Linked DNA regions of Homo sapiens: region 1 is linked to region 2. Evidence: fine-mapped expression QTL. A gene starts in region 2. The other region holds a variant in brackets. All regions are shown on one strand. Distances are from middle to middle. Region 1 overlaps PKNOX2 (PBX/knotted 1 homeobox 2). Region 2 holds the start of EI24 (EI24 autophagy associated transmembrane protein).

Region 1 (5,378 bases), 180 kb before region 2:
GGCCCAGAGGCCTCAGGCCAGCGGCATTCAGAGACTTAGCCACTTTGGCCTTCAGTCCGGGCTCTCTTTGCCTAGACAGGAGCAGAAAATCCCACAGACACCAGGAAAGGGAAAGGAAATGGGAATCCTCAACGCTAGTAATAATGAACATTTATAGAGCACTTACCAGGTGCCGGGTACCGTTCCAACTGTTTTACATATATTATCTTATTTAATCCTCTTTCTAAACCCACAAGGCACATGTTACTATTATCCCCATTTTAAGAGGAGGCAATTGAGGCAAGAGATGCAGTCACCATCATGCAGCTGGTCCATGGCCCAGGCAGGAATCAAATACAGTGCAAGACTCGCGCTCCAGTGACCACACCCAAAGCAGCTCTGGAGCTAATATCTTCTTCCATCTTTCTCTGGGCCAGGTCTTGTTTCTCATTTTCTTCTAGCTACATCTTATTTAACCCACAGTGCAACTCTGAGGAGTCACTATTATTATCTTATTTTCCAGGTGAGGAAATTACAGCTTAGAGATTATGTAAATTCTTCAGTGTCTCACCGTAGGTGGAAGACCCAAGACACCCAAGACCTAAAGCCCCGAGTGTCTTCTTTGCTGTTTAATTCTCACAAGACCCCTATGAAGTAGTTGTTATTATCCCCATTTGACAGAGGAAGAAATCAAGGACTAAGAACCCTATAGCCAATAAATTACATAGCTGGGATTTGAACCAAGTGGCTCTAACTCCTGAAGCCCACCCTCCTTCCTCGGTACCACTTCTTTCCCAAATTCTGAGGCCATCAGAAGGAGAGTGCCAGGTTATTGACTCCAAAATGATTTGACTTGTCTTGCGTGATGGTTTCCACAAAATATTTGTTTTGTCCCCGAATCATCAGGCAGTTCTCCAATCACTGGTATTCACCTTTTTTTCATGTCCCATTTTTTGTTCTAGTGACCCCACACTTCCAAATGGTCAGGCCAAGCTGGCCTGGTCTGGAAAAATTCCTGATTAGATTTGAGCATTGGCAGGCACAGTGACCCACAGGAAATATCATAGCACGTTAAGGAATGTGTGTTTATAAATTCCTTCTTCTGTCCGTGAGGGAGAATAGTTCCAGCTTCCCAATTTGCAAAAAGGAAGGAGAGGGTGAAAGGAATGTGCCTGCAAAACAAAGATGCCTCCCTAATTCCTGCATGGAGCTGAATGGGTTCCGTAATCTCTGAGCCTCAATTTCCTTATCTCTAGGAGAGATAATATTGCCTGTGTCCCTGTGGTGACGAGACTCAAATGAGATAATGGAGAGAAAGCACTTTGTAAATTGTAAAGTGCTGTGTATACAAACGTTTTGAAAGGCAAGAAATTATTATTATCAAGTGGAAAGGCCACGATCCTACAAGAGAGGCACACTGAGAGAGGCATTTGATGGTGGAGGGAGGACCATAATACCACAGTGGTATGAGGAATTGACATTTCCTGAATGGCTACTATATGCCCAACACATTTGCATACATGATCTTATTCAGTTTTCACAACAACTCTGAAGTGTAGGTATTATTGTCATCCTAAATTTTGCAGATAAAGTTCAAACTACTTGTTCAAAATATCAAGGCAGAAAATAATCAGTGTGGGACATCAGACGACATGGCTTTATAGAAAATAAGAAACCCCATTTTTGTGTACTTTCCTGGGACTGTGAGACTTGTGTACAGTGGTAGGAGACTAAAATGTGAGGTTGCATTTGTTTTGCTTTTTTGATGCAGACTTCTTAGAAAAAGAGGGCTGAATCATTATTTTGAAAGAGAAGGGAGGGAAAGAAGCTGAAAGATGGAGCAACACCTGGGGAGAGGAATTAAGGATGCATTCACCACATTTGGCGGTGATGTTGAATTAAGTGGCATTGTTATTGCCCTAGAAGATTTGGAATAAATTTTCACATGACCCCGATCATTTAGAAAAATAGTTTAATAAATCAGAATTTTCTAACTTGGAGACAAAAATCCAAAATTGTAAACACAGGATAGAGGATGATTTACTAAACACAAATATGGGAGCAAAAAAGACCCTTGGAGTTACTATTTTTTCACTGGCTGGACGTAGAATAGCAGTAGAAAAGCCAATGGGATATCAGACATTATTAGAAGAGATTATTTTTACAACTTGCATGCATTTGGTTTACTGTGGTTTATAAAGCATGTTTACATCATTATCTCCTTTAGCCCCTTTCAAATCTTGTGAGTTAGAGATGAACATTATCCCCATTTTACACGTAAAGAGACTGAGGCTCAGAGAAATCATGGAATTTGCCCAA[C/T]GGCACCCAATTAACAGAGAGCGGGCTCGGACTCAAATCCAGGCTGCCTGACAATGAACCCACAGTGTTCCTGCCCTGCCAGGCAGCCCTCTAACATTGATAGTGTTGCCTACCTTTCTAATATTGAACAGGTCCTACATATTCATTGCCTCAGAATACCATTATGATTTACTCTACCTCCTTAAATCTTTCAACCAATTCCATTAGCCCATAAAAAAGTAATCCTTCAGCTGCACTTTATTAGACCAAAGGATAAGTCCACTTTTGGTCACTGTGCACCAGACCTGGTTTAAACATGCTGTGCGTGTATTTTATTTGAGCAAAGCTCTTCTGAGTATATTTTACTTTTGTTTTACTTACCTGTATTTTCTGATTTTATAAAGTAAGTATAAATTGGTTATATATTTAAAATAAATGAATAGGTAAGTGCACTTTTCTCTGTGTATGTGTGAATATATGTATGTGTGTGAGAAAGAAGGAAAAAAGGAAAGAAAGGAGGGAGGAAAGAAGGAACGGGGAAGGGAAAGAGAAGAAAGGTTTAAGGAATGACGATCGTTTTTGTCTAGAAAAGAGAAAGTTTGGCCGGGCGCGGTGGCTCACGCCTGTAATCCCAGCACTTTGGGAGGCCAAGGTGGGCGGATCATGAGGTCAGGAGATCGAGACTATCCTGGGAAACACAGTGAAACCCTGTCTCTACTAAAAATACATAAAAAAAAAAATTAGCCCGGCGTGGTGGCGGGCGTGGTCCCAGCTGCTTGGGAGGCTGAGGCAGGAGAATGGCGTGAACCAGGAGGTGGAGCTTGCAGTGAGTCGAGATCGCGCCACTGCACTCCAGCCTGGGCGACAGAGCAAGACTCGTCTCAAAAAAAAAAAAAAAAAGAGAGAAGAGAAAGTTAATTGAACAACTTGTTCAAGTCAGATGCCTGGTCCAATATGTGGCATATAGTAAGACTCAATACTTGTTGAATGAATAAAATTAAATTAAAAAGAAGTTGTGTTGATAGAGGTCCTAGAAGTTCCTCGATGTTCTTGGTGCCTACAGAAGGCACTTTACATTAAGGCGGGAGAGATTTTGATTGAATATAAGGAAAAGCTTCTAATCAGCAGACTGAGAGAATATGGAGAAGGTCCGAGGCAACAAGGTCATCGCCCAGTGACCGGGAGAGGCTGGAGGAGAAGATGCAGCCTGTGTCCTGATGAGTTTGGACTGTGCAGCCACCTAGAGGCTGGTCCAGGTCACCGTGTGGGGTTCATTCTAACACCATCAGGCGTGAATTGAGGGCAGAAGTCCTGGTAATGTTCAGAGAGTCAGAAAACGTAAGGGACCTGACAGTCCAGCCCTCTCCGTGTGCACATGGAGAAGCAGGCACCTGTGTTGGTGAGGTGTTTGGACCCCGGGGGGCTGTGCCAGGAGTGAGAGATGGGAGATCAGAGCAGCTGAGAAAAGGCACATTACCAGGAAGGGTTCTGGAAATCCTAAACTTTGATGTCTCAAAAGCTACTTGGCTTCCTAGAACCCCGTACTTGCTGTCACTGAGCCACTTTCTCCCAAACCACGCACCCTTTATACTACCACTTCCTCTACCTACATAATCCTGAGAGTCCATATTGAAAGACAAGGCACACGGGTGGGGGGTGGGGCAACCTGGCTTCATATCGCTCACCAGTTGTGTGACTCTAAGCAAGGAAACGTAATATTTTTGGATTTTATTTTCTTCAAATGCAAAATATGAGCAATAATGGTACCTACTTAATGAGATGGTTGTGTGGAATAAATAAGGCCTGGAATGGGCTTAACACAGTGCCTGAGACACAGTCTGAATAAGAAACGTTTGGGTATTATTAACAATCCAGCAACGCATATGTGTTAAGTACCTTATCCTGTGCTCATTACACTGAGAGACATAGACCAAGATGTTCGTGGCCAAAGTCAAGTAGAACATTAGGCAAGAACAAATCTTTATTAAGTACTTAACTCCACTTTGGGGTCCAAATGATCCATTCTAAAGTCACAATTTTCCTCTTTGCTTAGGATGGCTCAGTCTCCCTCAGTCTCAGCCCCACAGAGGTGGTACTTCTTAGGAGGAGACCTTGTGACTGAGCCCTGCATGACGACACACAATCGCTGCTTTCTGTCTTTGAGTGACACTTGGTCTAATTTAGTACTCCAAAAACCCTTAATTAGTTGAGCACAATCCCTGCTCATCAGACAAGCCACAAGCCCAGCCCAGGGAATGTGGGCTCCCCACTTGAAATGCCAATGAGGCTCAGAGAAGGGTGTAATGCTGGCTTCAAGCCACACTTCTCTACACACACCTCACAGTCACAATTCTCTGGGAGAGATTTCCTTCCTTGTTTCCATCCCTTTTTATATTGTCCAAACTCTCCTCTAGGCATCCAGGAGCTAGCCAAAAGCTAGGAGGGTGGGACTAAAAAGAGATCCCATATATTGCTTGCGTCAACATAAATGGATCTGGAAAAGCAATAAGCATCACCCGCTCCTAGCGGTTACATTTAATTTTGATATAAATGTAGATTCACATGCAGTTATAAGAACTCATACAGAGAGCTCCTGATTCACATCTTGTATAACCATAGCACAATTTCACAGCCAGGAACAATCCACCAACTGTATTCAGATTTCACCAGTTTTACGTGCCCTCGTGTGTGTGTGTGTGTGTGTGTGTACATGTAATTAGTTCTGTGCAATTTTATCATATACTTAGATCCACATAAACATTGTTATAGCAAAGTACAGAACAGTTCCTCCCTCCCTCCTCCACTCTACCGCTGTCAACCACTAATCTGTCTTTCTGTCTTCCATCTCTATAATTTTGTCATTTCAAAAACGTTTTGTAAATGGCATCATATAGTATATAATCCTTTGAGACTGGCTTTTGTCTCTCAGGAAAATTCCCTTGCAATCTATCCACATTGTTGGGCATATCAATAGCTCATTCTTTTTTATTGCTGAGTTATATTCCATGATATGGATGAATTACAGTTTCTTTATCCATTCACCCATTGAAGTACATTTGGGTTGTTTCCGATTTTTGACTATTAGAAGTAAAGCTGCTTTG
Region 2 (5,378 bases):
AAGACAGGAAGACAAGTTCTCAATCTGGTCTGAGGACTTAACTTGTAGCTTGGCTTTCGAGCTTTAAACTGTTTTTGGCTTGGAGGTGGGGTTTCAATGGGGACCCGCCACTAACTGCCTAGGCATTTGGCTGTCTCCTGTCGCTATCACTAGATCTAGTATTGTTATCATTTCACTAAATCATATATCCATACAGTTAAAAAACACCTTCATATATATACCATTTATTTCAGCAGCCTGTGTTAAAGAAACTAAGGTTTGGGCCAGGCGTGCTGGCTCACACCTGTAATCCCAGCACTTTGGGAGGCCAAGGCGGGTGGATCACGAGGTCAGAAGATCGAGACCATCCTGGCTAACATGGTGAAACCCCGTCTCTACTAAAAATACAAAAAATTAGCCGGGCGTGGTGGCGGGCACCTGTAGTCCCAGCTACTTGGGAGGCTGAGACAGGAGAATGGTGTGAACCCGGGAGGTGGAGCTTGCAGTGAGCCAAGATAGAGAGACACTGTCTCAAAAAAAAAAAAAAAAAAAAAAAGAAACTAAGGTTCACAGCTTAACTGGAGGTCATGTCTTCTCAAAGTGCTCTGCCACAAACTTCCTCATTTGTGAAATTTGGAAAATAATATCCTCTACTTGTCCACAAATAGCATCTAATCATACATAAGCATGTGAGAGCTCTTTAAAAATGCAAGGTATTAATTATTATTGGTTTTTATTTTAAATGTGGTTATACATGTTGAGATTTAAAAGATTTCCTCCCGGCCAGGCGCAGTGGCTCACGCCTGTAATCCCAGCACTTTGGGAGGCTGTAGGTGGGCGGACCACGAGGTCAGGAGATCGAGACCATCCTGGCTAACACGGTGAAACCCCGTCTCTACTAAAAATACAAAAAAATTAGCCATGCTTGGTGGCAGGTGCCTGTAGTCCCAGCTACTCAGGAGGCTGAGGCAGGAGAATGGCGTGAACCCAGGGGGCGGAGCTTGCAGTGAGCCGAGATCGCACCACTGCACTCCAGCCTGGGAGACAAAGACAGACTCAGTCTCAAAAAAAAAAAAAAAAAAAGATTTCCTCCCATGAAGTAAGCCAGAATAAACTCATACCTACTAAATTCTTTCTAAAATCTTTTCTAAATTGACACTCTTGAGAAAGAATAGAGCTTGGAGGAAGAGCTATTATTATAATTAATAGCACAATAATCAGTTTGTCATTAAACCACTTAGGTCTCTTTGTAACAAGATTTCTAAGCTTTAGTAGATGGATTCCTTATTCTATTCTATTTTATATTGTTTTGTTTTGTTTTATTTTATTTTATTTTTCGAGACAGTCTAGCTGTGTCACCCAGGCTGAAGTGCAGTAGTGCGATCTCGGCTCACCGCAACCTCTGCCTCCTGAATTGAAGTGATTCTCATTCCTTAGCCGACCAAGTAGCTGGGACCACAGGTGTGTGCCACCATGCCCAGCTAATTTTTTGTATTTTTAGTAGAGACGGGATTTCACCATCTTGGCCAGGGTGGCCTCAAGTGATCTGCCCGCCTCAGCTTCCCAAAGTGCTGAGGTTACACGCATGAGCCACCGTGCCCAGCCACTTATTTTATTTCATTTTTTAAATTTATTATTATTATTATTATTTTGAGACTGAGTCTTGCTCAGTCGCCCAGGCAGGAGTGCAGTGGTGTGATCTCGGCTCACTGCAACCTTCATCCCCTGAGTTCAAGTAATTCTCCTGCCTCAGCCTCCTGAGTAGCTGGGACCACAGGCAGGTACCACCACACCTGGCTAATTTTTGTTATTTTAGTAGAGATGGGGTTTCGCTATGTTGGCCAGGCTGGTCTTGAACTCCTGACCTCGTGATCTGCCTGCCTTGGCCTCCCAAAATGCTGGGATTAAAGGCATCCTGTTACTAATTTCACAGGATTTTAGAAACGCAAGCAGCGTTGTGGAGTCAATGGGGGAGGGCAAAGAACAGGAGGAGAGATCTGTGAGAACGGGATCGGCGAGGAGGCGACGGGGAGGAGGCGACGCGGAGGGGTGAGGGGTCCTCTCCGCCGCCAGGCGGAGTTGGGAGCCGGACGATCCCGCACGCAGCGCGAGGCGGGACCCCGGACTGACTACATTTCCCAGTCTCCGTCGCTCCGCGCGGCCCACCCCTTCGGCTCTGGGCCCCGCCTCGTGGTGCCGGCTGGTTCTTCGCGCTCGCCCGACTTCCCAGCGGCCCCGTGCGGCCCGGGCATGCCCAGTGCGGGCGCAGCGGCCCCGGCCCTGGAAGCGCCCCGGCGGAGCTGGCCTGCGGTGGGCTAGGGGCAGGGCCGGAGCCGCGGCGGCGGAGCTGTGGGTAGGTGCGGGCTCAGCCGAGCTAGGCCTCGGGGCCGCCGCGCCGCCCATTCTGAGTGGCAGGGACCGGGAGGGCAGGCAGGGCCCGAGCGTGGGTTGGTGGGGCTACCGGCGAGGACCCCTTATGGGAAGGGGCCGGAGGGAGCGGGACGGGGCCGGGCACATCCCCGGGCGAGGCTGCCCCAGGTGCGGCGCAGCTATCTTTAGCTCCCTGTGTGACCCGGAGCGTGCGTGATCCGCACCTCGCGTGATCCGTACCTCGTGCACAGTTGTGCCTAGGGAGACCAGTTTTCTGCCGAATTGCCTAGGAGCTGTGGGGAGATGGGCCTGAATGGACCCGTGGACTCAGAGGCAGCCCGTGGAGCCCCGTGGGAAGTGAGGATGTTTACCTTCCCTGTACCTGGAGTGGGCTACGACAGCTTCCTGTTTGCCGAGACTTGGGTTTAGTGACTTAGAAATAAAAGTGTGTCTCAGCAGATGCTTATTAGCTTCTAATGACTGTTGGGAATTTAATGGCATTTGTATTTCCAGGTTTGAGAGGTTATTTGTCCATGGGATGCTCGTGTTAAAACAAAAATCTTCATTGCAAAGCTTAAGTAAAAACAAGTCTCGACCGAGGTAACGTTAGAACACCGGGTTCTGAGGTTCACTGTAGCTGCCATTCATTTGCTGTCAGTCTGGGCAAGTCATTTAACTTCTGAGACTGGGTTCTCTCACCTGTTAAATGAGCCAGATGCATCTTCATCTGTCTAGCTCAGCTGTAGGATTCCCCCTGTGTCATTCAGTCTGTGTGTGTGTTCTCAAATTGTGGCAGGTTATTTTTCCCCATGCCTCAGCTATTTGTCAGACTGGGTAATTCACCAAATATTCCTGTAGGAAGGATGTTAGGATCTAAGTATAAAAGTGAAGTGATTTATCCTTCATAGGTCACTCTTAGGAGGTGTCCTGCCACTTGGTACATGCAGAAACCAGGTGTTAGCTGGCCAGGGATCAAATGACACAGCTGTTGTGGACTGAGACAGAATGTTTCAGGTTCCCTGTCAGTTCCCTGTGAGAAATCCAGGCCAAGTAATGGGCTTCCTTAAACCTCCAAGCTGGCTCACTTTGGTGGGGTTGTGTTTATATAGAATTTTAAGTTTTTTTCATGCTGTTGTGCCCTATTAGATGCAAGAAACCTATGAAGAAGTTTAGTACCCTTAATTTATAGATGAGCCAGTGGCAGGTTACGGGAGTGGATCTGTGAGTCTTTACAAACTAGTGTCGTGCATATCACTGAGCCTTTGCTAGTTATCTAGCTCAGCTGCCCTCACCTCAACCCTGAGAACATGTCTGTATGGCTGTACCTACGCGACTGGAACTCTGAGGTGTTTGTTTTCAGGAGGAAACAGTGGGAGTATTAACAGAAGTTTCTTACCCTAGAGACTTCTATCCGAAGTGAGCCTATCTGTGTAGGATTTGACCTAAGGAGCAGAGGGTATATACAATGTTGGGCAAATTGCCTTCCTACTGCCATATCCCCTGCTCTTCCAGTTCTGAATGGCATTAGTCCAGTTGGGTCAATGAGGAGCAGTTTGGTGAAGTGGTTAAAGGTCGGGGAAAGTGTGCTTATATTTTGAAATTTAAGGTTTGTACAAGCTGCTTGTGAAATTCTGTCTTTGTATTATGGTCATACCTCTTAAACTGAGAATACTGCAACTTGATTGAGTGAGTGTTGAGAACTTTAGAATATCAGGTTCTTAAAAAATGCCTGAAAGTGGGTTTTCTATTCATCTTAGAAGTCACCACAGATTAAATGAGAGAATAGTATATTAATTACAAGTATTTCTCACATGAACTCTCAAGTTCTTAATTTTTGAAACTAGATATCCCATTCACCTGAGAAATAAAATGGGAAAGCCTTACTGTTTTAAAGACTGTTTATACATATGAACTTTTTTGAGGCCTAGTTTAAAATCCACTATTTATTGCATGTTTATTAAAATTGTATCTGTATATATTTAAAGTTAGAAAACAGAAAAGACCAGCCGGGCGTGGTGGCTCATGCCTGTAATCCTAGCACTTTGGGAGGCTGAGATGGATGGATCACCTGAGATCAGGAGTTTGAGATCAGCCTGGCCAACATGGCGAAACCCCATCTCTACTAAAAATACACAAAATTAGCTGGGCGTGGTGGCGGGTTCCTGTAATCTCAGCTACTCGGGAGGCTGAGGCAAGAGAATCACTTGAACCTGGGAGGTGGAGGTTGCAGTGAGCCGAGCCCAGTGTTGCACTCCAGCCTGGGCAACAAGAGCGAGACTCTGTCTCAAAAAATAAAATAAAATAAAAAAGACCTATTTGGAGGTTTTGGTACGCAATTTCATGTCATACCTTAAACTTTACTGTGCCCGAGGGCTCTGTATGACTGAAGCATGTATTTAGTAATTTTTGTAAGAACTTTTATCTTGCTCTTGTATTTTCATTCAAGTATTTGAAGGTATCCAGCAAACATAAAAATTGCTTAAGAAGATATTGAAATGTAATTATCTTCCATCTCCAAACCCTCAAAAGTGCTTAGAATGTGTAGGAGGGATAGTTAGGGGCATTGAGGCTCAGAGGAGGTTACTGGTCAAGAGCACATTGTAAAAATGTAAAATGTAAAAATGAGAGGGTGTAAAATGTAAAACCCCTTGTAAAAATGAAAGGGTGGTGAGTGTTTTAGAAAAAAAATAGGGATTTTAGGTTTCAGCTGTACAGGAATAGCTTCACTTGATTCACTCTATTAGTGCTAGAATCTACTGCTATCTTACTAGAGCTACAAGTATGTGAGGTCATCATGTGGAAATGTGCATGAAGTAACTTATCTTTAAAATAAATATTTGCCTCCATTATGTTCCATCTGTTTCCAGATCCTTCATGATGAGAGATTTGGGGACACTTCTCTCTCCTGTGTGTAGTTGATAGTTTGGTGGTGAAGAGATGGCTGACAGTGTCAAAACCTTTCTCCAGGACCTTGCCAGAGTGAGTACATCTTGTTTATAGGAATTCATCTCTCGGCCTTTTTTTTTTTT

The links. PIP is the estimated chance that this variant, and not a neighbour inherited with it, causes the effect. A credible set is the group of variants that fine-mapping cannot tell apart.
Region 1: its variant is the best candidate, but not a certain one, in a credible set for the expression of EI24 in whole blood (INTERVAL, PIP 0.64).

Annotation. Positions count from the first base shown.
Region 1 is chr11:125,389,999-125,395,376 of GRCh38, forward strand. All of the region lies in intron 6 of PKNOX2 (PBX/knotted 1 homeobox 2), which reads left to right. Among named protein-coding and RNA genes, the nearest start is that of FEZ1, 100 kb to the right of the region's middle. The variant C/T (reference allele first, on the strand shown) is at 2,299.
Region 2 is chr11:125,567,242-125,572,619 of GRCh38, forward strand. EI24 (EI24 autophagy associated transmembrane protein) reads left to right here and starts at 2,236. Exons shown (of 11, transcript NM_004879.5): 1 at 2,236-2,332; 2 at 5,217-5,328. The coding sequence starts at 5,287. It overlaps STT3A-AS1 (STT3A antisense RNA 1), which reads right to left. Exons shown (of 4, transcript NR_132372.1): 3 at 3,049-3,201; 4 at 867-877. RefSeq lists enhancers at 1,900-2,401, 2,904-2,953 and a silencer at 1,904-2,463.